Regions from separate parts of the Homo sapiens genome. Here region 2 is linked to region 1. The links come from fine-mapping of genetic effects on gene expression. A gene starts in region 1. The other region holds a variant in brackets. All regions are shown on one strand. Distances are between the middles of the regions.

Evidence for each region. PIP is the estimated chance that this variant, and not a neighbour inherited with it, causes the effect.
Region 2: its variant is fine-mapped to the expression of TMC4 in tibial nerve (GTEx, PIP 0.96).

Annotation. Positions count from the first base shown.
Region 1 is chr19:54,171,515-54,174,333 of GRCh38, forward strand. TMC4 (transmembrane channel like 4) reads right to left here and starts at 1,646. Exons shown (of 15, transcript NM_144686.4): 1 at 1,525-1,646; 2 at 356-569. The coding sequence starts at 1,603. It overlaps MBOAT7 (membrane bound acylglycerophosphatidylinositol O-acyltransferase MBOAT7), which reads right to left. Exons shown (of 8, transcript NM_024298.5): 8 at 1,901-2,819. The coding sequence ends at 2,530. RefSeq lists enhancers at 1,769-2,585, 2,586-2,819.
Region 2 is chr19:55,147,561-55,150,457 of GRCh38, forward strand. TNNT1 (troponin T1, slow skeletal type) reads right to left here and starts at 1,646. Exons shown (of 14, transcript NM_003283.6): 1 at 1,601-1,646. The variant C/CT (reference allele first, on the strand shown) is at 1,827.

The DNA.
Region 1 (2,819 bases):
GAAGAGGAGGCAAAGATGAAGGAAGGTATAAAGCAGAGAGAAATAAATATTAACAGATTTTGGACACACACACAGAGAGAAACTGAGGCAGAGACAGGATTGGTGGAGACCAGGGAGACGGCAAATCCCAGAGAGAAGAGACCCCAGAGCCATCGAAAGGCAGCACTCACCTGGAGTCCGAAGTAGAGACAAAGATGAGGGGAAGAAAGAAACCAAGAGAGGCAGCTCTGAGCGGGGCAGAGAGAGGCCCCAGAAGCCAGGAGCGGCAGAGGACAGAGGGAGGAGACCGAGTCCAGGGTATGGGAGAAGGGCCCGGTCCGGGCTGTGCGGGTCCCAGCTGGAGGTGGGGCCTCACCTGTGTGCCCGTCTGGCCTGCATGGGCCAGGGCAGTTCCCGGGAAGGGTGAGGGTCCTGCAGCTCTGTCTGGGTGACTTCTGTGAAGGCCTTTCTGCTCCTTCCTCCATCCTCCTCCTCCTCCTCCAGCGCCCCCCAAGGCAGCACCCCAGGGTCTCGGTACCGAAGGGTGGCAGCACTGGGCAGCTCGTTCAGCACAGAAGACAGCGATGGGCCTGGGGAGGAGCAGGGGGCTGGGAAGACCCGGGAGTCTGGGCCCTAATTCCTCCTCCCTCAGACCAGGAAACCAGGTCCCCGGCCCCTCCTCCCTCAGACCCAGGAGTCCAGGCCCCCGGCTCCTCCTCCCTCAGACCCAGGAGTCCAGGCCCCCGGCTCCTCCTCCCTCAGACCCAGGAGTCCAGGCCCCCGGCTCCTCCTCCCTCAGACCCAGGAGTCCAGGCCCCCGGCTCCTCCTCCCTCAGACCCAGGAGTCCAGGCCCCCGGCTCCTCCTCCCTCAGACCCAGGAGTCCAGGCCCCCGGCTCCTCCTCCCTCAGACCCAGGAGAACAGGCCCCCGGCGCCTCCTCCCTCAGACCCAGGAGTCCAGGCCCCCGGCTCCTCCTCCCTCAGACCCAGGAGAACAGGCCCCCGGCCCCTCCTCCCTCAGACCCAGGAGTCCAGGCCCCCGGCTCCTCCTCCCTCAGACATAGGAATCCAGGCACCCAGCCCCTCCTCCCTCAGACCAGGAAACCAGGTTCCCAGCCCCTCCTCCCTCAGGCCCAGGAGTCCGGGTGCCAGCCTCTACTTCCCCTGGACCCAGGGGTCCACAGCCCTCAACTCCATCCCCAAGCGTGGAACCCTCCTACTCCAGGGCAGTGGAGTCCAGGCTTTAACTTCCTTTTCCCTCTAGCTCAGGAGTGTGGGAACCCAGCCTCTCCTATTCCCAAGACACCCAAACTCCCAGCCCTTAGCCCTCCCCTCCTCCCAGACTAGCCTGGTTCTCCAGGCTCCTCCTCCTCAGACCCTGGAGTTCCAGCCTCCAGTTCCCTTCTCCCCCATAATATCAGGAAGTGGAACCTTCTCTCTTTAGCCCTCAGACTCAGGAGGCCAGGCCTCCCCTTTCCTCCTCCAGCAGGACTCCCACCTAGCCTGAAGGTCGGATGGATCTGAGCTTCTCCTGGCATTCCCTACCTCCTCTGGCCTCCCGGGGGGCCAGCCACTCCCTAGAGGAGCCCCAGGCTTCTGATTCCAAGGTCGGGTTTTCTTCCATGGCCCCAGGCTGGGCTGTCTCTAGTGGCCACCAGGCAGACACTGCCCCAGGTAAGGGAGGGGCCAGGGGCAGGTGTGTACCTGGCCAGCAGGTGGCCCGGAGGGAGTAAGGTACACTTCCTGTGGTTTCTCAGGGCCGCTGATGCGAAAGGTCTCCTGGGAGCTGAAGTCCCCGTGGTGCCCCGGGCCTCACAGTTTGGTTCCTGGGCTGGGCGGGGGGGCTGTACCTCACCCTGGGACTTGGTGGACTAAGTCCTTCCCACCGTTTATCACCCAGATACCTGCACGGACACGATGCCTTTGTGCAACACTTTATTGGGAAAGATTTACACACGGTGACCTGTCATAGGCCAAGCGATGAGAAGAGGGCGCCAGGAGTGCTGGGGTCCCGAGGTGGCTCAGATGGAAGCCATGGGACGGCCGTCCCCAGGCCCGCGCACCCGCACCTCAGTTTCCCCTTTGTGAAATGGGAAGCTTATGCTTCCTTCCAAGTCTGCAATATTGGTGCGATGAGCTAAAAGTGGAGCGAAAGACACAAGGAAGAGGCTTCCCACTCCCAGGACCTGCCCCCAAGCTCCGACCCCACATTGTGGATGCAAAGAAAGGGAATTTGCCCAAAACCCACTGCCCAGGGGCCCCTTCCGTTTTGGGGAAGTGCAGTGCTCTCTGGATACCCAGAAGCTGGAGCAGGGGCCAGTGACTCTTGTCTGGACAATACTTTGATTTTGTAGGAGTGGAGGTGGCCTCTGGGCAGAGGGCAGGGAGGACACCCCCGGGTCTGCTTCAGTTGCAGGCAGGGTATTTAGCTGGGGAAGAGGAAATTCTCTCCAGGACCCTCTCCAAGGTAAGGACTCTTTCTGGGGAGGAGACAGCAGCCTGGTTCACAGAATTCCCGGGACCAGCTGGCAGAGGGAGCGTCGTGACAGCTTACTCCTCCCGGAGCTTCTCCGGGGCAAGGCTGGTGGGCTGGGATGCTGCCTTCCGCCGGCTGGGGCTGCCCCCACCTAAAGCCAGCCCCAGCCCCAGGGCTGCCAGGGCCAGGAAGTGGATACAGAAGTAGATGGAGGCCCAGTACCGAAGGGTGTCGGCCAAGGAGAGCAGCACGAAGCCCATGCACATGTAGTCATAGGCGCGCATCTTCAGGAACCAGTGCACCCAGTCCCAGGCCTTCTGGCCCCCTGGGCTCAGCCGCCCCCGCAGGGCTGACTCCAGCCGGC
Region 2 (2,897 bases), 980 kb after region 1:
GGGCCGGATTCCTGGGTCTGAGGGAGGAGGGGCTGGGGGGTGTGTGGGAGGGTGGGTGTGGACTCCTGAGACTGAGATGGGTTGTCCTGGACACCTGGGTCTGAGGGAGGAGGGGCTGGGGTCTGGACTCCTGGATCTGAGGGAGGAGGGGCCAGGGGCCTGGACGCCTGGGTCTGAGGGAGGAGGGGCCGCGGGCCTGGACGCCTGGGTCTGAGGGAGGAGGGTCTGGGGGCCTGGCCTCCTGGGTCTGAGGGAGGAGGAGCTGGGGCCTGGACTCCTGGATCTAAGGGAGGAGAGGCTGGGAGTCTAGACTCCTGAGTCTGAGGGAGGAGCGGGCTGGGGGCCTGTACTCCTGCGTCTGAGGGAGGAGGGCTCAGGTCTGGACTCTTGGGTCTGAGGGAGGGGGCCGGCTGTCCTAAAGCATGCATGAGGACAGACCTTGGTAGGTGTGGTCCTGGCACAGCCAGGAGGCTGCAGACCCTGCCCCCTCAGCACAGCTGTCCTCTTTTGTCTTATGACAAGTCCATGGGAACCTGATCCAGTTGGGATTAGGAAGAGGCATTTGAGAAGGGACAGTGGCCTGAAGACAATAGCTGCCCCACCCCCAGGAGCTATTTTGGGGGGATGTCATAGATGGTGAAACCGAGGACATTTCCTAAGAAGGGATTTGAGGAAGGGGGGCTTCTGGGAGAATTAGTCACCCGCATCCCCTCTCCCACTCGCCCCACCCCACTGGCTGGTTTCCTCCCCACCTGTCTCCCCTTTCACCTTCCCATACATCACGTAGGGGGCAGGGGCATAAAGGGCACCTTCTGTCCGTAGACCTCACCCTGACCCCTACATTCTTAGACCTCAAAGTCTTTGAGACACCCTAGGCCACAGGGTGCCTAGCCCCAAATCCCAATACCCACAGATTCTGAGACCCCGATTTATGATGCCCGTGTTTCTGAGGCCAGCAAGTCCTCACAGCTCTGGATTCTGAAATCCCAGTTCTTGATAGTCCAGATATGGGCCGGGACATCCTAAGACCACCCCCAGGTCTTGAGACCTCCTAAAATCTGAAACCTCAAGAATATGAGACCCCCAAAATCTTGATACCCAAACTCGGAGGCCCAGTTCATGATACCCCAGATAATGGCACTCTAAGTTTTCATGCTTTCTATCATAATGTCTCAGATTCCGAGCCCTCCACTACCAAAACCCCAATTTCTTCTGAGACCCCCCCAATTCCTGATACCCTCAGAGTCTGAGGCCCCAAATCCTGACACCCAGATTGTTTGACCTCCAAGTCCAGATATCCCTGACTGCTGAGATTTCCCCCAGATTCCCAGAACCCCAAGATCCTAGGAGGTTTTATTCTGGGACATCCAAGTCCTGGCAGCCCCGGGTTAGGATTTGTGTAACCCACAAATCCTAGTATTTTCCCCTCTATCCTGAGTCCCCCTAAAGTCTGAGCCTCTCAAGTTCCCAGACCTCCAGTTGTATGCCCCACCTACCTCTGCACCATTTCTCCACACCCGACATCTTCCCCACCTGCCTCCTGCCCCCTCCCCCAAGGACATGGTTTTTGAAGACCACAGGGCTCCGCAGAGCCCCTTACCTAGGCTGTGTCTGAGATGCTGTGAATCTTGAGGCTGAGCCTTGCTGAGGGCACTGAAGCTCCGGGGAGTTTATAGCTGGAGGCTCGGGCCCGCCCCGAGGGGAGAGGGAGGGGGAGAGAATTCCTTTGCTCAAACACAAGCCTGGGAGTTCAGAGACAGCCCTGCTGCCCCTGGCTCCACACTCAGAGTCCAGAAGCCTCCGTGGGCCCCTCCCCAACCCCATGC[C/CT]AACCCCATCTGCATGGCCCAGGAGCCCCGCCCCTGCTCCCACCCCACACCCCAGGCTCCCGTGGTGCTCCAACTACCTCCCTTATAGCTCCCTGTGCTTTGACGTCCCCATGCCCGGCACACAGTAGGTCCTTGGAGGACCTACTAATGACACATGGGCTATAAGGAATGTTTCCTGTTTTCTTCTCTCTGTTCCCTCTTTCTATCTAGGTCTCTTTCTGGACCCCCATTTCTGTTGTCTCTGTGGCTCTCCATCTGTGTGTCTCTGTGTGTCTGTCTCTACTTCTTAGTCTCCTCCTCTGTCTCTGTCCATCTTTTTGTCTCCTCCTCCCACCCCCACCCCTTTGTCTGCCGCCAGGATTCCATCCTGGTGACAACAGGCACTAAAGCCGGGAAGCAGGTGTGGGGAGGGGGAGGGGGAGGGTGGGGTGTCAATTAGGGTGAAACCTACCCTCCCTCCCCACCTCCATCTAACGCTGATCTTTTTTGGTATCCCCCTCCCGCTTCCCAGCCAAGCCATGACCTTGAGTTCTAGGTTCAAGCCAGCCCTGGAGAGCAGGCTTCCTCACCCTCCCCGCCTCTCCGTACCTCTGTCTCTGGTGGTCTCGGTCTTTGTGTTTCTGTGCATTTCTCGGGGCCCCTTGCTGGGTCTGTCTTGGGCTCTCTCTGCATCTGTCGCTTTCTGAGCCCCTCAGTGTGTTTCTCGGCATGTGTCTCCGGGTGGTTTTGTCTCTGCATTTCTGTGGGTGTCTCTGCATGTCTGCCCCTCTCAGCGTTTGTGTCTGTGGGGGCTCACAGTCTCTCTGTGCATTTCTGTCCACCTATGACCCCATTTCTGTCTCTTTTTGGCTCTGGGTCTCTGTGTCTGTGTTCACGTCTCTATCTTTCTAGTTCTCTCCATGTCTCTCTTAGTGCCCGCAGTTCCCCCTCTGTGGCTCTCCATTTCCATCTCTTATAGGGTCTCCATGTCTCTGCACCTTGCTGTGAGTATATCTCTGTCTCTCTTTTCTCCTTTCTTTGCACTTCCTTCTATGCATCTTGTGGTATTTTCTCCCTCTCTCTTTGGGTCTT